Homo sapiens: one gene and its partners. The protein of the gene in region 1 interacts with the protein of each later gene in a pairwise test. Each region holds a gene or a part of one and is shown on either strand. Other genes may lie near its edges.

Region 1 (7,031 bases):
TGAGTCCATTTTGTACCCAGGCTGGAGTCACTGCGAATGGCCGCCACCTCTCTTTTTGCATAGCCAACACCGGCCTCTTAGGATCACCTGGGTCCTGTTGGCCGACTTGGAGGTGCTGCCTTTTCAATGACAAGGCGTTTGTTATGTGTAAAGAAAGGCGTTGAATTGGACGGTCTCCAGCTTCTGCCCAGCATGGAGCCTGCAACATTGTGTGGGAGTGGGGCTCCCATAGGGTAACAATGGCTCACCCAGCTCACCGTGCCCACTGTTTGCCAGCCATGGGGTCTCCTGCACACCCCATCATAGACGCAGGTGCTGGGCCGGCATCCCCCTTTCACAGGAAACCAGGCGTTGGGGCGAATGCCCTTTGCAGGGTCACTGCGTGTGGCCGAGCAGGCCAGGAACCCGGGCTTATCTCACTTTTAGTCCCTGGCATGAATGGCTAGTTCGTCCATCAAGTATTTTCAAATTGGTTGAACGATGGAGTTGCTGGTGGTCGTGGTTCTCCAAGATGCTTCCGATCATGGCATGTTGTTGTAGAGGAAGCTTAAAAGATACTGCAAGGTCCTGGAGGAAACGCCGATGTCTGGCTCAGTAACATCATCCAATGTTCCAGAATTCTTCTAAGTATCTCATGGGGAGGGGGCAGGGACTTAGGAAAGTCTCCAAACTGTGACACTTTTATTTCACTTTAATTAGGAAAAAAGAGATGCTGGGCTCCTTGGTGCCTGCATTCACGATTGGTGTCCCGATAGAGGCTGGGATGTTCCAGAGCCTTCCTGGGGCAGGGGGCCTGGCCAGGGCTTTGAAGGGCAAGGAGAGAGGGCAGGGCAGCCTGGCATGGTGCGGAAGGAACGGGGTAATGGCAGAGAGAACAAGTATGGGGGAGGGGAGCCAGTCCTGACCCCTGTGAAGTCACTCTGCTGTTAGGGGCCCTATAACAAAGTACCACAAACTGGGGGGACTCAGAGCAACAGAAATTTACTCCCCCACTACTGGAGGCCAGAAGTCTGAAATCAAGGCTTCGGCAGAACTGTGCTCCCTTGGAAACCTGCAGGGGAGACTCTGTCCTTGCCCCTCCTAGTTCCTGGAGGTTGCCACCATCCTTGGCTTTGCTGTGTAGACACAGTGCTGTAATCTTCCGTCCTCACGCGGCCCTCTCCCTATATGCGTGTCTGTCTACATCCAAATTTCCCCTCTTTATAAGGACACACCAGTTTGGTTGGATTAGGGCCCACCCTGATGGGCTCATTTGCAAAGATCCTATTTTCAAATCAGGTCCCCTTCACAGATCCTGGGGGCTGGACTTCAGCATCTCTTTTTGAGGGGCCCAGCGTGCTCTCAACTTGTGGTCTCTTGTCCTTCTCCTGAGATGCGTCAGGGTGTAAGGCATGGTTCCCCCACTTTGGCGATGAGATGTGGGGCCCAGAGAGGCCAGGTGACCTGTTCAAGATCACACAGGCAGCAGCTTACAGGATTCAATTCCGAGCCAGTTTCTGGAGAGGCCCGTGGCCCTCTCTCTCCTTAGGCCATGGACCCCATGCTGTGCCCTGCAGTGGCTGAGGAGACCCCAGCTCCAGAGTCTGCACAGGGCAGGGGGAAGAGAGAGCTCAGCCTGTAGGGGAGCTCTTTGCCACACCACGGGCCGCCCGCTGACTCTCCCTGGATGTATTTCTTTGCCCTTCTCCCCTTGACTGTTCCAGGGACTCTCGCATTCTCGTTGCACGGTTCGGCTGGCTCCTCAGCCGTTGGGCCTGGGATCCTGGAGGAAAGGCTTGGCCAGGTTTCGGAGGACACCCCCGAGGAGGTGGTTCCCCCACAGCCCTGCAGGAGAGAATGGGGGTTCTTTTTAAATCTAGACAGGTGGGGTACCAGGAGCCAAACTGATGTGGCTTCCCAACTGGAGAAACAGGTTTAATGATGCCCCATCTCTTCAAGGACTTGAAACCCTCTTCTTTTTTTGAGACGGAGTCTCACTCTGTTGCCCAGGCTGGAGTGCAGTGGCGCGATCTTGGCTCACTGCAACCTCCACCTCCTGGGTTCAAGCGATTCTCCTGCCTCAGCCTCCTGAGTAGCTGGGATTACAGGCACTCACCACCACGCCCGGCTAATTTTTTATATTTTTAGTAGAGACGGGGTCTCACCATGCTGGCCAGGCTGGTCTTGAACTCCTGACCTCATGATCCACCCGCCTCTGCCTCCCAAAGTGTTGGGATTACAGGCGTGAGCCACCACGTCTGCCCCTGAAACCCTCTTCTAACAGGACATCTGCACCTGTGGTGGCTTGGCTCTCTTCTCAGAATAGTGTTTTCAGATGCACAGAATAAAATGCAAAGGGTTACGAAGGAGGCCAGTTAAATGGAACCAAGTCCTTCTGGACCACCCTGAGTGAGGCAGCCCTGCAGTGTAGACTTGGAGAAAGGCAGGTAGCTGGAGCCCGGGCAGGCTGGCCCCGGGTGAACATGCGACGGGGCAGCTGGTTAGAGGGTTGAGAGCCCGCTCTGCTGTCTGCCAGGCGCACACCCCAGGGCCAGTGAGGAGATGAGAGTGAGGATAACAGCAGCGACAGCAGACAGCTCCGTCATGCTCCCCCCCAACCCAGGTGCTGTTCTCAGTGTCCCGTGACTGTCCCTGGAAGGCGTTCCTTTCACTGCTATTCACAGGCTGGAGCCAGGTGCCAGACTCCCGGCCAGTGAGCTAGAGCCGCAGGGTCTGTGCTCCGGCCCCTGTCCAGAGCCTGTCCCAACCCCAGGCACCATCAGGGCTTGCGGCTATCATCGCCAGGCAGCCCTCCCTGGCTGGGCTCCTGCCACTGCCTCTGGCTGCCACGTGCCTCAGACGGCTGCGCCTTCTTTCTCCGGCCAGCTCTGCCTGCTTCATCACAGCTCTGCGCTCTGCTGCCCTGGCCCAGGTGCTGTGCGCTGGCCTGTGCACTGCAGCTGTGATCTGGACTAAACGGCGCCTTTCCCTGTGGGCACTGCGGCCCTGGGGAGCAGCCTGGCTCCATCCTGTCTGTGTCCCTTGTCAGGCACAGGCTCCATATGCACTGTAGGCCATCCCAGTGGACTGGAGTTTCTCTGGCCCTTAGAGAGGGTGATGGCCCTGAGAAGGCAACCTACGGTCGGGGTTGGGGGAGTGGAGGCGGGAGACGTGACTGAGGAACTGGCAGGACCTGGGGACCAGGAGGATGGGCCTGCTCAGAGGGGATGTGAATCTGCCTGCCAGGGGCCTGAGGGGTCCCTCCCTAGGTGAAGGGACACAGAGGGGACAGGTCTCATTGGAGTTGTAGTGGGTCTGAGCTGGGGAGATGGGAGGGCGGGCGGTGGGATGTAGCAGGTAGCCAGGCGGAGTGCGAGAGCAGCCTGGGCTGGGGTCTCAGGGTCTTGGTGCTGCCCTTGTCCTGCCCCGGGCACTGTGCTGAGAGCCCCTGGGACCAATGAATCTGGCAGCACAATGGACAGGAATCTGACTGCAGAGAGGCCACGTCCCTCAGCTCTGAGCCACCCCATTCAGCTGGTCCTGTGGCCAGGGCTCCCTGCAGTCAGGATGCAGGCTCGGGGACAATTGTGAGGCCTGGAGATGAAGACCTCCGGGAAGTGGAGGCAGGGGATGAGCTGCAGTGACTAGTGTGGCTCTCCAGGCATCTGCAGCCTTGCAGAGACGGGGACGTGGTGGAGGTGTCGTCCCATGTCATAGGGAAGGAGTCTGTGGCTCAGAGAGGTTAAGGGGCTTCCAAGGTGGTGAGGCTGGTAAGCTGCGAAGGTGCAGAGCTGCAGGCAGAATCTGCACCCTGGGCCCTGGTGCTGGGGCCTGAGCGGCTTGCAGGGGGTGCATAGGGGCCCCCAAAGAGAAGGAGGGTTAGCCTCAGCATTCACGGCAGGGTGGCCGCCCGTCTCCCAGGTGACCATGCTGCACGGCTGATAGGACACTTTCTCACGTACATCTCCTGCTTCCCCAGGACCAGTGCCTGGGACGCCCTTGGTCTCCTATCACAGATGGGAACTGGGGACTGCATGGTGTTAGGGGACTCCAAGCCTAGAGTTCCTGAAGCGGGCAGGGCTCAGGAGGGCACTCTGCTGGAGGGTCTACCCAGTTGAGCTTCGGGACTGCAGCCTTAGGAAGCAGCAGAGCTCCCCAGTTCTTTAACCTTGTTGGCTGTAGGGTCTGTATGTGGCCAGGGGAGAGTCCCAGCCCCTCGCATCCTCCAGGCTGCTGGGAGGGGCGGTGGGGAGCGAGCAGCTCTGTGCATGTTCATACGATTACGGAGGCCCTGCCACGTGCTGGCACCTGGCATCCTCCCACCCGGCCAGGGAGCCCCATCGCTCTCTCTGCCTCTCTGGGCAGGCGGAGGGCCATCTGCACGCTGTTTTAGCTTTTTATTGATTGATTTATTTTGAGGTAGAGTCTCGCTCTGTCACCCAGGCTGGAGTTCAGTGGCACTATCTCAGCTCACTGCAGCCTCTGCCTCCTGGGTTCAAGCGATTCTCCTGCCTCAGCTTTCCTGAGTAGCTGGGATTACAGGTGCGCACCAACATGCCCGGCTAATTTTTATTTTTAGTAGAGATGGGGTTTCGCCCTGTTGGCCAAGCTGGTGTCGAATTCCTGACCTCAGGTGATCCACCCACCTCGGCATCCCAAAGTGCTGGGATTACAGGTGTGAGTCACCACGCCCAGCCCGTTTTGGCTTTGAGACATACTCTCGTCCCTGCCAGGCTCCCTGGCAGCCGGGTGAGTGCCTTCAAGGTCCAGGTCCAGTGTCATCTAGTGACCCATGCCCCGTGCCCTCCAGCCGGGGCAGGCTGTCCCCCTCCAAGCCAGCTGTCTTGCAGCTGTCGTGAGTTCATCTGTAAACACCAGCTGAACACCTACTGTGTGCTGGGGCTGTCTAGTGCTCAGCATACCATGGTGAAGAAAACCGAATCCCTGTCCCTGAGGACACTTAATTAACCACATGGGAAACCGCCGAGGGCGAAGGCCAATGGGGCTGCAGAGGTTCTGTCTTTCCTGGTCCCACGCAAAAGCAGGCTGGTGTCCATGCGACACTGCGTCCCAGCACTGAGCCCAGGGCTCAGGACACATTTGCTGAGCGGATGCTTGGCTGGTAGCTGATGCACCACCGCCGTGATGGGGCAGTGGGCAGCCCAACCCCACTTCTCACACATGTGTCTTAGTGGCCCGAGAGCTGCCTGGGCAACAGTGGGGCTTCTTCATATCTGTACCCTGAGCTCTCTATGCAGGACCTTGGGTACTAAAAATAACTAATTTAAAATGAATGTCACTTATGAATATGGTGAAAAATTAAAATGTTACCAAAAAATTGCCCAGTGAACAGTGATGCTTCTAACCTCTTGTGCCTAGCTGCCCTTACCAGGTTCTTCCAGAGATAGTCTCTGCACATGCTGTGTGGGGGGGGGCCTTCGTGTGCGGGTGTGTGTGTGTCTGTCCTGCTGCCTTCCGGCCACCCCTGACAGTCCCACCTCTGCCCACAGGTCTCCGTGTTGGTCCTCTTCGCCCTGGCCTTCCTCACCTGCGTCGTCTTCCTGGTTGTCTACAAGGTGTACAAGTATGACCGCGCCTGCCCCGATGGGTTCGTCCTCAAGGTAAAACTCCGTTTTCCCCCAGAGGCCCTGGGACGCCTTTGCACCCCATGTTCTCTCCCTTGAACTCAAGGCTGCTCCTGCCGTCTCCCCCAGCTGGCCCACGGACAGGCCTTAGAGCAGCAGGGGGCCAGTGTCAGGAGTGTCCCTGTGGAAGGCCCACCTGGAGAGCAGGGCAGGTAGGCAGGGGGCACATGAGACCCACAGGAAGGAAACTCCCGGACTTGGCCCCTGGGAGCTGACCTCAGCAGTCCGGGGAAGGGCCCTCCTCGAAAGTGGGCCCAGCCAGGGTCTGCCGTGGGAAATGCCCAGGATGATACCTACCGGATCCCAGCGGATTGCTCTGGGGGAGGGAGGGAGAGAGACGGGACCATGTCCGCCACATGAAAGAGGAGAGGATGTACTGGGGGAAGCCAAGTCCCACAGAGAGGAAGGCCTTGCCCAAGGCCACGCAGGGAAAGGGGAGCAGGGCTGGGGGGCACACCCACCCTCCTGACCTGTGTCCCTCTCCTGCCTGTCCCACCGCAGGAGCCACACTGGTGCTGGGCTCTCTACAGGCATGGAAATGCTCGCTTTGCATATATAATGCTCATTCCCAAAAGCCCACAAGTGACATGCAAGGCAACGGGATTAAAGGGAGGGGAGATAAGGGTGGAAAGAGAAGACGGAGCCAGGGGAGGCCTGGCCACGCATCACTTAGTGACGGGAATACGTCCTGAGAAACGCGTTGTTAGGCGACTCCATCATTGTGCCAGCCTCACAGAGTGTCCTGTACACCCACGCGGCCCAGCCTGCTACACACCCGGGCTGGAGGGTATGGCCGACTGCTCCTAGGCCACAAACCTGGACAGCATGTTGCTATACTGAACAATGTAGGCAGTTGTCACACGATGGTAAGTATTTGTGTATCTAAACATAGAAGAGGTCCAGTAAAAACACGTTATAACGCATGGTCCACCTGAATAGGGCATTTCCATCATGAATGCAGCTTGCAGGACCGGAAGCTGGTCTGGGTGGGTGAGTGAGGGAGTGGGTGGTGAGTGAATGCGAAGGCCGAGGCATGGCTGTGCACTCCTGTAGACGAGTGAGCGCTGGACATGTGGGCTACACTCCATTCATAACATACTCTTTCTTCAGTAATAAATTAACCTGAGCTCACTGTAACCTTTTTACTTCATAAACTTTTTGTGTGTGTGTGATGGAGTCTCACTCTGTTGCCCAGGCTGGAGCGCAATGGTGCGTTCTTGACTCACTGCAACATCTGCCTCCCGGGTTCAAGCGATTCTTCTGCCTCAGTCTCCTGAGTAGCTGGGATTATAGGTGTGCGCCACCACCCGGCTAATTTTTGTATTTTTAGTAGAGACAGGGTTTCACCATGTTGGCTAGGCCGGTCTCGAACTCCTGACCTCAGGTGATCCACCCACCTCGGCCTCC
Region 2 (6,314 bases), on another chromosome or scaffold:
GCCTCTTCTGGCCCCGCTCCCGGCCGCCCCCGGCCTGCCAGGCCCAGGACTGAGGCCGGGGGCCGGGACCCTCCCCCTCCCCACCCCCACCCCCGTGGAGACAGGGCTCTGGGGCTGATGGCTGGGGTTGGGAGCCAGGGTCCTCTTGCCCGGACAACCCCAGGACTGACGATGACCCCGAAAGGGAAGAGGCCCCATCTCTCGGGGACTGAGGGGGTGGAGAGAGGGGACCTCTTCCCCCTACTCTGCCCCCTTCCTGCACACCCTTGCGCTGGAGGAGGGGAGGGGGCACCGCCTCCCACCCACTGAGGGCAGGAGGGCTTGTGGGGAGGGACACCAACAGGGTTTCAAGGGGACCAGGAGTCAGAATGTGGGGAGACGCCTCTGCCAAGGCCATCCCAGCCCCTATGCTGCCATCCCCCAGGGCTCCCCATCACCCGAGAGGAGAGGACGCCCCAACTAACCCCCGCTGGCCCTCGGGCCTCCCGAGTGGCCGGCTGCAACCACGGCTCCTCTCCAGGGTAGGCCAGCTTGAGGAATCTTATTTATTTTATTTATTTACCCAAATTTGAACTAGTCTGTTGGGTTGGGGGAAGGAGGTGGCTGCTACCCCCAAGCCTTCCCAGTGCTGACAACCCCGGGGGCAGGCGAGGGCGCCCAGTCCCTCACCATCGGCTGCACATCGCGCCCTCGGGCCCTGCCATGTCCCTGGTGCTACTGACCTCTCAAGGCTTCCTCCAATCTGGGGTCGGGGGACCCTGGGAGGTGCTTTACAGACCGCTAATAAAAGACGATCTGCGTGAACGCCACCAAGGCCCTTGCCACCAAGTTCTTTGGGGCTGGGAAGGGAGGAGGTGGGGGGCTTGGGCCATGGGAAACAGAGGGGACAGGATCCCCAGCTGCTCGCTGGGCAGTCAGGGAGGAGGAAAGCAGGGAACTTTTGCTCATCAACAGGAGAGGAGGTGGGTGTGGGTGCTCAGGTTGAGTCCAGAGCCCTTGTCCGGCTCTTTAGGCCCCTTTCTGGAAGTTTCTGTGGGGCATGGAGATCAGAGGGGAGAGGTCACAGCCTGCCCCGCTAGAACTGGGGTCTTCAGCCGCTCCCAAGGAAGGTGGTGGTGGGTGGGGTTGGAGAAAGGGGGCAGGCCTTACATGTGGGTGCAGAACTGGAAAAGGAGAAAGAAGAACGCCACCACCAGCAAGCCCACCAGGATGTGATGGAAGAGCCCGGGGCTGGAACCTGCTAGACAAACAGGACCCTTAACTCCCCTCTGATGGCCCAATGAAGGGTCTGGGGCTGCTCTCCTCCAGACCCTGGCGGGGAGGGAGGTCCCTTCTCAAGCTGGTTCATACCTGAGTTAATGAACACGATGGGTTTCTCTCCAATAAACTGGGCCACAGCCAGCAGCCTGGCTTGGTCTGAGTCCGGATAATCGAAGAAGTCAGGTCTGTCTAAGAAGCGCGGAGACTCTGTCCCCAGGGCTGACGCCGTGGCACGCTTGGGTCTGGGTGCTAGGACCCAAGCAAACTCTGTGACAACAGCCAAGCTGACCCCTGCCTTTATCTCTCGAGGCGGAAGCTGACTTGGGACCCTGTGAGACCACCCAGCCTTATTGCAGAGGCTGTGGAGGGTCTTGATTTCCCTCAGGGTCAGCTGGGTGCACCACGACAAGGCTCGCGGTTGTTGGGGGGTAGGTGGGACCAGCAGGATGGGAGAGAAGAGTGGAGAGAAAATGAGAGGGTGCAGGGTTGGCTTCCGAGTCCCTAAGTGGGCATCACACTTTATGCTCCCAGAGCTGCCTGCCTTCCTGCTGCTCCCAAGACAGCTTCTTACCAGTTTCTATGGCCCCTAGTGCAGCCAGCCACACCCACACCAGCACCCATGGCCACAGCCTCATGACTCCTATCATGAGGTGGGGGCTCTGTGATGTCACAGCCCAGAGCTGTTCTGATGGCACTTTGGGGTGAGGGGAGAAAGTGCTAGGAGCTGGGACCCCTCCCCCATCCCTCACTCTCATCAGAAGAGGAGAGGAGAAGAGAGGTTGGGACCAGTCTTCACCCCCTGGAATGTCGCTGATGATAAAACCATAATGGTGGCAGCCCCAGCATTTACAAAGAGGAGGGATGCGGCACGGCCATCTTGCTGAAAGCCCGAACTAAAGGAAGCTGTGTTTGGACAACAGGCACAATTTGGGGTGGTGGCACAGGGCCACACACCTCCGGTTACCCCTTGGATCAACCACAGGTAACATTTGTTTTATTTATTTTCATTTTTTTGGAGACAGGGTCTCTGTCTGTCACCCAGGTGGGAATGCAGTGGCGCCATCTTGGCTCTCTACAGCCTCTGCCTCCTGGGTTCAAGTGATTCTCTTGCCTCAGCCTCCTGAGTATCTGGGATTACAGCTTTGGATAAATCCCTTCCTTTTATCTGTCTGCCACCACACCCGGCTAATTTTTGTATTTTTAGTAGAGACAGGGTTTCACTATGTTGGTCAGGCTGGTCTTGAACTCCTCACCTCAGGTGATCTGTTCGCCTCGGCCTCCCAAAGCGCCCGGCCTATTTTATGTATTTTCAGAGACAGGGTCTCACTCTGTCACCCAGGCTGGAGTACAGTGGTATGATTACTGCAGCCTTGAACTCCTGGCCTCAAGTGATCCTCCCACATCAGCCTCCTGAGTAGCTGGGACCACAGGCATGTGCCACCATGCCCGGCTAATTTTTGCATTTTTTGTAGAAATGAGGGCTTGCTATGTTGCCCAGGCTGGTTTCGAACTTCTGGCCTCAGGTGATCCTCCAGCTTCGGCCTCCCAAAGTGCTGGGATTACAGGCATGAGCCACCATGCCCAGCAGGTAGCATTTATTGAACACCTATTACTATGCTGGCTGGACCCCATTTATGGCCAAGTACCTTGCACAAATTTGTTCATTTGCTCTTGCACTGACCCTCAGAGGCAGGTACTCTTTTTTTTTTTTTTTTTTTTTTTTTTTTTTGAGATGGAGTTTCACTCTGTCCGCCAGGCTGGAGTGCAGACGCACAATCTCAGCTCACTGCAACCTCCACCTCCTGGGTTCAAGCGATTCTCCTGCCTCAGCCTCCTGGAGTGGGATTACAGGCGCGCACCATCACTGTTCGGCTGATTTTTGTACTTTTAGTAGAGATGGGGTTTCACCATGTTGGCCAGGCTGGTCTTGAACTCCTGAACTCGGATGATCCGCCTGCCTCGGCCTCCCAAAGTGTTGGGATTACAGGCGTGAGCCACCAAGCCCAGCCCAGAGGCAGGTACTCTTGCCTCCCTTATACACGGGAGGAAATCACGGCACAGAGGGGAAAAGTAGTGTGGGCAATGCACACTTCCTGGGGGGGGGGTTCCTCTCTGAGGCTCCCCCTTGCATCCTATCCGCAGATCCAGGGGCACAGGGCTCTCTCCGTCCTCCCCCGCCCCCTCCTTAGTGCTCAGCCGGGAACGACCCTGGGGTTAGGAACCGAGAGGAGTAGCAGGCGTCTCCCACTAGGTGGCAGCAGCGGCCGCGCCTGAGTCCACGCTCCCACCCTAGGAAAGGCGCAGCGGGGCGGACTCCCGGGCCTCCTCCCGCCTCTTCCACAGGTTGCATCCGCGGCTGCAGGAAAACGGATGGCTGGGAATGGCCGTCGGGGGTTGGTCAGAGGAAGTCCCTCGGCCCTTTCCGAGGCACATCTCTTGGCCATCCACGCGTCCTTCGCAGACTCCGCTCCCTGCACCTCCGTTTCCTCTTCTGTGGCCGGCGGCTCCCCCGTGGCCACCCCATCTCCCATCTCTGCCACCTCCCAACAGCCATTTCCACTCCTGCGGCCCCATCCCAGCTAAGGAGAGCGCCCTTCTGATTGGCAGGTGGGCCTGTCTGTCACGGGCATGTTCCATCCCACCCAAGCCCAAGGACACTCCAGGGTTTCCTTAGTTTCACAACGAAGGTGCGTGCTCAGCGGACTCTGCAGACCCAGTGCCGCGACTTCCCCTAAAGCCAGGCGTGTATCTGCGCGTGTGAGGTGCTCTGCCGCAACCCTATGCAGAGAGCAGGTGGGCTAGGACTCGGGGTACTTGCCATGAACCGCTTCGAGTTCCTAAACAAGTAAAAAGCCCAGAGAGAGAAAAAAAGGGGGCAGCGGGGCGGGGGTGGGGAAGGAGGGAAACGAATATCTATGGGACTGGCTCACGTGGGCTGCTTCCCCTGTGCTGCGCTGATGGCTTCCCTTTTTTTGAGACAGGATATTGCTCTATCTGTCACCCAGGCTGGAGTGCAGCCTCGACCTCCTGGGCTCAAGCGATCCTCTCACCTCAGCCTCCCAAGTAGCTGGGACCACAGGCGTGCACCACCACACCTGCCTATTTTTTGTTTTGTTTTGTTTTGTTTTTTAGATGGAGTCTCTGTCTGTTGCCCAGGCTGGAGTGCAGTGGCACGATCTTGGCTCACTGCAACCTCTGCCTCCTTGGTTCAAGCGATTCTCCTGCCTCAGCCTCCCGAGTAGCCAGGATCAAAAGCATATGCCACCATGCCTGGCTAATTTTTGTAGTTTTTTAAAGTAGAGACGGAATTTCATCATGTTGGCCAGTCTGGTCTCAAACTCCTGACCTCAAGTGATCTGCCCTCCGCGGCCTCCTAAAGTGCTGGGATTACAGGCGTGTGCGACTGCGCCCAGCCTACTTCTTTTTTTCTTTGCAGAGATGGAGTCTTGCTATGTTGCCCAGGCTGGTCTCAAACTCCTGGGCATAAGTGATTCTCCCACCCTGGCCTCCCAAAATGCTGGGATGACAGGTGTGAGCCGCCATGCAGATCACTTCTAAGAAAAAGGAAGGGATTTATCCAAAGCCACAAGGCATGTGAGAGGCAGCAGAAGGGACTCAGTAATGTGGTTTTTGGGCCAGGCGCGGTGCTCACACCTATGATCCCAGCACTTTGGGAGGCCAAGATGGGTGGATCACTTGAGGCCAGGAGTTCGAGACCAGCCTGCCCAACATGATGAAATCTCCTCTCTACTAAAAATCCAAAAAAAGGCTGGGCGCGGTGGCTCACACCTATAATCCCAGCACTTTGGGAGGCCGAGGCAAGTGGATCACCTGAGGTCAGGAGTTCAAGACCAGCCTGACCAATATGGTGAAACCACGTCTCTACTAAAAATACAAAAATAAGCCGGGTGCGGTAGCATGCGCCTGTAGCCCCAGCTACTCGGGAGGCTGAGACAGGAGAACTGCTTGAACACAAGAGGCAGAGGTTGCGGTGAGCCTAAATTGCGCCACTGCACTCCAGCCTGGGTGACAGGGTGAAATTTCATCTCAAAAAGAAAAAGAAAAAAAAAAAGATTAACTAGGCATGGTGGTACGTGCCTATAGTCCCAGCTACTCAGGAATCTGAGGCAGGAGAATCACTTGAGCCCGGTAGGTGGAGGTTGCAGTGAGCCAAGATCGCACCACTGCACTCCAGCCTGGGTGACACTCGAGACTCTGTCTCAATAAATAAATAACCTGGTTCCCGACGCTGGGCCAGGGCTCGTGCCCCAGGCCCACAGGCAACTGCTCCTTGAGGTTAGCTGGGAGAAGGGACACAGAACCTATGGCCTTTGGGGTTGACTTTCTTTTGTTTCCTCAAATGCTTCAAAAACATTAAGCTATCTCTACTAGTAAAGGCCATTTTGACCCAAACAATGCATTATCCATTCACCCATTTATTCATCCATGACATAAACGTGCTGAGCTCCTGCTACGCACTGGCTGGACTCCATTTATGACTCAGAAATCACCACGGCACGGTCCCTGACCTCAAGAATGACAAGGGAGAGAACTCATAGATGCGCATCATTCTAGAGTAGACGGGCAACTCTGGGTCATCTACACCTGCTGTCTCCACTCCCTCATCTTTAATGGACTCTTCAATCTCTTCTTTTTCTGAGATGGAGTCTCATTCAGTCACCCAGGCTGGAGTGCAGTGGCGCGATCTCGGCTCACCGCAACCTCTGCCTCCCGGGTTCAAACGATTCTCCCACTTCGGCCTCCTGAGTAACTGGGATTACAGGCACCCACCACCACACCCAGCTAATTTTTTAATTTTTAGTAGAGATGGGGTTTCACCACGTTGGCCAAGCTGGTCTCAAACTCCTGACCTCAGGTGATCTGCCTGCCTCTGCCTCCCAAAGTGCTGGGATTACAGGCATGAGTCACCTCGCCCAGCCAATTCTTCAACCTCTTCTAATCTGGCTTAGTCCCCACCAATCCACTGAAGCTGCTTTGATCAAGTCCACAAAAGAGCTCATAATCTGCCAAATCAAATGGTTCTCTCTCTTTCC
Region 3 (7,031 bases), on another chromosome or scaffold:
AAGTCATCTGACACCTTTTGTGGAAAAAAGCAAGCAAGTAAACAAAACATAGGTACCTTTCAAATTTCAGATCACAAAATATTTTCTTCATGTAGCCATGGAAATTTTCTTCCCCCACATCATTTTTTGCCCTCATATACAGCATCACTTTTATCTTTCACAGAGACATAGCAAGATGGTCATTAAAACATCCTCTTTAGACTAAGATCTTTATAAATAAAACAATTCCTACTAAAAGTAACTATCATTAGTTTACTAATAATTATTTCTCAGTTATTTTAATAGCCATCAGTAGTCAAGTTTAAGGTTGTAAAGAACTAGATGGTCAGGTGTGGTGTTCACGCCTGTCATCTCAGCACTTTGGGAGGCTGAAGCAGGTAGATTCCTTGTGTCCAGGAGTTCAAGACCAGCCTGAGCAACATGGCAAAATCCTGTCTCTACAAAAAATATAAAAATGATCTGGGCATGGTGTTGTACGCCTGTGGTCCCAGCTACCGGGGAGGCTGAGGTGGGAGAATCTCTTGAACCTGGGAGGTGGAGGTTGCAGTAAGCCGAGATCAGGCCACTGCACTCTAGCTTGGGTGATAGAGCGGGACCCTGTAGCAAAAAACAAAACAAAACAAAACAAAAAAAGAATTAGGTACAGGCTGGGTGTGGTGGCTCGTGCCTGTAATCCCAGCACTTTGGGAGGCTGACGCAGAAAGGATTGCTTGAGGCCAGGAGTTAAAGACCTACCAGCCTGGACAACATAGCGAGACCCTGTCTCTACAAAAAATTAAAAAATCAGCTAGGCGTGATGGCATGCATCTGTAGTCCTAGCTACTCAGAAGGCTGAGGCAGGAGGCTGAGGCAGGAAGATCACTTGGGCCCTGGAGTTTGAGGCTGCAGTGAGTCATGCAGACTCAAACTCAGCTTGGGTGACACAGCCAGACCCTGTCTCTAAAAAAATAACTAGGTACAAATTTCATCCTTAAATGTAAACAACCAATCCTGTTCACTTTGGTTGCCCAAAGACTACAAAAAGCTCAGGGGCTCTGCCCTTAGGCCTGGCAGTGAAGCAGTTCCCAGGTAGAGTTTCTGTTTTCAAGGGTGCTCAGGATTTGGAGAAAAGTTCCTTTCAGTGACTGATGATATATATCTAGAGACCACATCAAAAGCACCAGACTTACAAAGAGAAGGAGATGATAGCACCGAGCAAGCTGTATTTCCTTTCTTCTGAGCCCTTACCTTTCGATCTCTCACATTGACTGGATCTAGACCCTCCCGCCCCCTACAATCACATAAGCAGCCAATTACTACAACAGGTCATAGCTCCATTCTAGGAAACCAAGGTCCTTGGCTGCCCCATGGCTACTGACCACATTATTTTCCTAACCTCAGGCATAATGCATATATATTTTATCATTCATAGTGAATCTATCGCCTATACTAAAAAAAAAAAACCAGAAAGTAGATATCCTATTAAGAGTAGGACAGATGCATTCTCTAATATACAAAGAATTTCACTACTATGAATAAATAATTATATAGTTAATGATTTCTAATGATTTGTTTCAGAAGCCAAGCTTGAAGCACTCATCCAAAATCTTCCCAACTACAAATGGGTTTTTAAAAAATTAATTCATTTATTTTTGAGATGGGAGTCTCACTATGTTGCCCAGGTTGGTCTCAAATTCCTGGGTTCAACTGAGCCTCCCACCTCGGCCTCCCAGAGTGCCGGGATTACAGGCGTGAGCCACTGTGCCTGGTCCAGATGAGCTTTTTAACTTTTGTAATCTGTACCAAACGTACCTACGTTCGTTTGATGCTTTTTTGGGCTATTAGCAGAAATCAGTAAAAATGTTCTTAAAAGCAGCTCCAAACATTTAAAAAATATATACATACTTCTTTCACAGAGAAGCCCATGGACAATGCAGCCACGTCTGGGATCCGCTCTCCTGGTATAGGCCAATTTCCATTTCGGAAAACAACAGACCCTGGTGATTTTAATATACTAAACTCGTTCCCCAAAACACCTGAAAAGAAAACAGATCAGTAAATGAATTATCAACATCATAAATCATTTACCTTGACAATTATTAAATATAATACATGTTTCCCCATTCACCACTGACTTAGCGTATTAAATTATGACTGGTCAAAATGCTGAGTCCTAAACAATAACAAATTCTTTTTCAAAGTATCACTCTAAGAATTTAAGTCCACACATTCTGCTGGAACAAAAGTACAACTATCAGAGCCTCTCTGAACCTATTCTGGTTCAGGGTCTGCCTGATAAGAACAAGAAACAAACAAAAGTCTCAAAAAGAGATCAACAAAGGTACAACTACAAAACAGGGTTTCCTAATGATATAGACACCTTCCTACTGATGGCTCTTAAAGAGGCATGTGGCAATTTGGCAGGAATTAGAAATCAGTGGCATATCTCCAAAATTTAAAAAACAAAAAACAAAGCCCAGGCACAGACTAAAAAGGAAGAAGCTTGAAATCTCTAAATTATTTCTACCATCAATCCTTTCTACACAATGCAAATTCATAAAGTTCCTATTATTTCACTATAAGATTTTACCAGGTTACTATGTCTTAGGATAGGTAACATCTTTCCTTATGTCCCATAGGCAACCCTAGTGAAATAAGGACTGTCAAATGTTGGGGGGGGGGGGGGGCATACATGTCACAAGTAGAAACATAAAAACACTTCAGACTTTAGAAACAAAGTCCAGGAAACAGTATTTGTAGTTGACATGTCAAGAGGGTAAGAAAAGGTATTCTGTAATGATAAAGTCAACTAGTCTAAGGATTCAGGATTAAAAGATAAAGATGAGAATAAAGGGACTATTTTATAAGCTCTCCACAGCTAAGGATGAGGTATTTGGCCTCTTCATCCATTATCTATTAACCTCGTGATGTCTAGCTTACACAGGGACAAGTAGCTAATTTCAGTTACTGAAAGGAACTTTTCTCCAAATCCTGAGCACCCTTGAAAACAGAAACTCTGCCTGGGAACTGCTTCACTGCCAGGCCTAAGGGCAGAGCCCCTGAGCTTTTTGTAGTCTTTGGGCAACCAAAGTGAACACGATTGGTTGTTTACATTTAAGGATGAAATTTGTACCTAGTTATTTTTTTAGAGACAGGGTCTGGCTATGTCACCCAAGCTGAGTTTGAGTCTGCATGACTCACTGCAGCCTCAAACTCCAGGGCCCAAGTGATCTTCCTGCCTCAGCCTCCTGCCTCAGCCTTCTGAGTAGCTAGGACTACAGATGCATGCCATCATGCCTGGCTGATTTTTTAATTTGGGGTTCCTATTAAAAAAATGGGCTCCAAGTCTAGAACAAATGTTAGCCACACCTAGTATGGGAAAATTAGACTTTAGTAAAGAATCAGTGTTATTCTCTTGACCTAAGGAAAGTACCACTAACAGGGGATGGAAATAAAGTTGGAAGCAACAGTAAATGTTTTGGTGTTGCAGTATTGACAGTAAATAAAAGGCTTCAGGTTGGTGCTGATACACGGGAGTTACAAATTTCAATCCGGCACAGCTGTCAGAACAGGAATGTCCAAACTGCTCTAGCTGAAGACAGACCAAAAAAATTAGCAGAATGGAATGGTCTTTTGTAACTGATAGATATCTTGGTTCACTAAAGTAGTAGTACTGCAAACACTAAGAAAAATGGGGAACCAAGAGACCTATGCTTCCCAAGAACCATACACATATTTTGTTTGTTTGTTTTGAGACAGAGTCTCACACTGTCGCCTAGGCTGGAGTGCAGTGGCACAATATTGGCTCACTGCAACCTCTGCCTGCCAGGTTCAAGCAATTCTCCTGCCTCAGCCTCCCAAGTAGCTGGGATTACAGGTGTGTGCCACCATGCCTGGCTAAATTTTGTATTTTCAGTAGAGACAGGGTGACACCATGTTAGCCAAGCTGGTCTCAAACTCCTGACCTCAAGTGATCGGCCCGCCTCAGCCTCCCTATGTGCTGGGATTACAGGCGTGAGCCACCGCGCCCAGCCCCAGGTACCATACACATTTAAAAAACCATATTTTGATTTGGAGATACCCTTGTTTTGAGACACGGCCCTACTCATTCAATTCTGGCAAACCTATACCAAATAACTTTGCCCCAGCTTCGTAGTTTCAACTTCCATGCCTGTACAACAGTCCTTCAGAAGCCCAGAGCTTTAGAAAACCTTAGAGTCAGGGACTCCTATACAGAGGAAGGTCATTTGTCCAAACTTCTGCTTATTATAAGTATAAGCATGTCTCAGGGATACCTGGCAGAAAGTCACCCCTCCTCTATTTCAATACTACCAGTGATGGGGACACCACCTCAATATACGAACTACATTTGCCAGCAACTGGCTCCATTTTCCTAACATTCTAGTCCTTTGAAAAGTTTTTCCTTGTACTGAACTGAAATGGGCTTCCTAACTTTCAACTTCCTATGCTATCACTCCCCAACTCAGTCTCACCAGATAACCTCATCTCCAGCTTCACAGAGAAAACAGAGGAATTTCTTGAGCTACCTGCTTCCTCTCCCCACCACAAATTTATCTGCATAAGCCCCTATCTGTAACTCCTCTCCCTCCAGACATGAGGGCAGGGATGTCCCTCCTCCAGACTAAGACAATCCTGTGTTCAGTCTTTTTAGGGACCTTTGTTCCTTCACTGTTTGTTAAGGAAGCCACTCTTCTAGGACAGACAACACATCAGGAGTGAGGTGGCTATATGGTAATAGCCATCAAAAGATGGCCCTATAGAATACAAGCTCCATGAAGGCGGGGATTTCAGTGCGTCTTGTTCACACACTATCCCCAGGGCTGAGAACAGAGCCCGACACATTGGTGCTCAATAAGTACTTGTTGAGTTAATGAATGAATGAAGTCACACTTCAAACCACCAGTTTTTTCCCTCTCCACTGGCCCTTTCACTTCAGCATAAAAATACGCTCAAGGCACTCCCATTCTATAACTAAAACCATAAAAAACCTCCTTTGGTCCTACCAGTCTCCACCAGCTACCAGCCTTGCTCCCCTTCAGAGGAAGAATCCAGGAAGAGCAGTCAACCACCGTTTGCTTCTATACTTCATTTTAAGTTTACTACTTAACCCACAAAATTTTAAAAATTTTTTTTATTTTTATTTTTTGAGACAGGGTCTTGCTGTCACCCAGGTTGGAGTGCAGTGGTAAGGATCTCAGCTCACCGCAACCTCCACCTCCCAGGTTCAAGAGATTCTCCTGCCTCAGACTCCTGAGTGGCTGGGACTACAGGCACGCACCACCACGTCTGGCTAACTTGTGTATTTTTTTGGTAGAGACAGGGTTTCACTACGTTGGCCAGACTGGTCTCGAACTCCTGACCTCAAACAATCCGCCTGCCTCGGCCTCCCAAAGTGCTGGGATTACAGGCGTGAGCCACCCCACCTGGCCGCCCACACCTTCCAAGCCCACCATGCCACTGAAACGACTCCCCAAACTCAAAAGGCAATTTCCATCCCTTAATTTTATCTAACTTCCCAAAGCATTTGATACTGGCAACTCCCTCCTTGAAAAGCCCCTGCTTTGGTCTTCATGCAGCCACGGCTCCTGGTTTTCCTTGCAATCCCTTTGGCTGCTTCTCCTCTGTTTCTTTCCCTTCCTGTCCTTTAAAGCAGTGGTAGCCAAACTTTTTAGATTTCAACCCTGTCAGCCCAAAATTGGAAAGTAGCCCTTCTTTCTTCTCTCTGTCCCTCTCATCCTCTCCATGTAAAGTATATACTTCTACTATAGTAATAGATTATGTATTTGATTTGTGCTATATTACAAAGCATACAAAAATAAAAGTTTTTAAAAGGATGAGATACCTGTGTAGTATTTTTCCCAATCTAATAATGAGAAAACATCAGATAAACCCAAATTGAGGGACAGTCTACAAAATACCTGACCATTATTATTCAAAAAGAGATAAGATAAAAATAGGCCAGGCATGATGGCTCACACCTGTAATCCCAGCACTTTGGGAGGCCAAGACAGGCGGATCACTTGAGGCCAAGAGTTCAAGACCAGCCTGGCCATAATGGCGAAACCTCATCTCTACTAAAAATACAAAAATGAGGCCAGGTGTGGTGGCTCATGCCTGTAATCCCAGCACTTTCAGAGGCTGAGGCAGGCAGATCATTTGAGGTCAGGAGTTTGAGACCAGTCTGGTGAACATAGTGAAACCCCGTCTCTACCAAAAAAATACACAAGTTAGACAGATGTGGTGGTGCATGCCTGTAGTCCCAGCTACTCAAGAGGCAGAGCACCTGAGGTTGGGAGTTCAAGACCAGCCTGACCAACATGGAGAAACCCCGTCTCCACTAAAAAAATACAAAATTAGCCAGGCATGGTGGTGCATGCCTGTAATCCTAGCTACTCGGGAGACTGAGGCAGGAGAATCACTTGAACCCGGAAGGTGGAGCTTGCAGTGAGCCAAGATCATGCCATTGCATTCCAGCCTGGGCAACAAGAGTAGTCCCAGCTACTTGGGAGGCTGAGGGACAAGAATCACTTGAACCCCAGAGGCGGAGGTTGTAGTGAGCCGAGATCGTGCCACTGCACTTCAGCCTGGGTGACAGAGCAAGACTCTGTCTCAAAAAAGGAAAAAAAAAAAAAAAAAGATAGAGGCTGGGTGCGATGGCTCACACCTGCGTGTAATCCCAGCACTTTGGGAGGCTGAGGAGGAGGATCACTTGAGCCCAAGAGTTTGAGACCTCATCTCTACAAAAACAAACAAAAAATTAGCTGGGTATGGTGGCATGCGCCTGTGGTCCCAGCTACTAGGGAGGCTGAGGTGGGAGAATCGCTTGAGCCTGGGTGGTCGAGGCTGCAGTGAGCTGTGATCACACCAGTGCACTCCAGCCTGGGTGACGGAGTGAGACCCTGTCTCAAAAACAAAAACAAAAAGGATATAAATGGAATTTCTAGTACATTCATCTGGCATCCAAATGGATCACCTAGCATACTCCACTTTGGAGATCTGAGGGCTCCATTCTTGACTCTTACTGCTTTCCT

What was found.
Region 2: the proteins of NSG1 (region 1) and C16orf92 interact in binary tests that used the Homo sapiens proteins (3 or more experiments, as listed by UniProt).
Region 3: the proteins of NSG1 (region 1) and ATP6AP2 interact in binary tests that used the Homo sapiens proteins (3 or more experiments, as listed by UniProt).

The regions. Positions count from the first base shown.
Region 1 is NC_000004.12:4,404,084-4,411,114, forward strand, and holds part of NSG1 (neuronal vesicle trafficking-associated protein 1), read left to right. Parts: intron 1-5,489; coding exon 5,490-5,600; intron 5,601-7,031.
Region 2 is NC_000016.10:30,018,922-30,025,235, reverse strand, and holds C16orf92 (fertilization-influencing membrane protein isoform 1 precursor), read right to left. Parts: upstream 2,039-6,314; 5' UTR 1,896-2,038; coding exon 1,832-1,895; intron 1,590-1,831; coding exon of another isoform or gene 1,510-1,589; coding exon 1,351-1,509; intron 1,241-1,350; exon of another isoform or gene 1,238-1,240; coding exon 1,150-1,237; intron 1,031-1,149; coding exon 1,009-1,030; 3' UTR 532-1,008; downstream 1-531. Other genes in the region: TLCD3B (ceramide synthase), read left to right, coding at 1-53. UniProt on the Homo sapiens protein: May play a role in sperm-oocyte fusion during fertilization.
Region 3 is NC_000023.11:40,583,970-40,591,000, reverse strand, and holds part of ATP6AP2 (renin receptor precursor), read right to left. Parts: intron 2,016-7,031; coding exon 1,885-2,015; intron 1-1,884. UniProt on the Homo sapiens protein: Multifunctional protein which functions as a renin, prorenin cellular receptor and is involved in the assembly of the lysosomal proton-transporting V-type ATPase (V-ATPase) and the acidification of the endo-lysosomal system.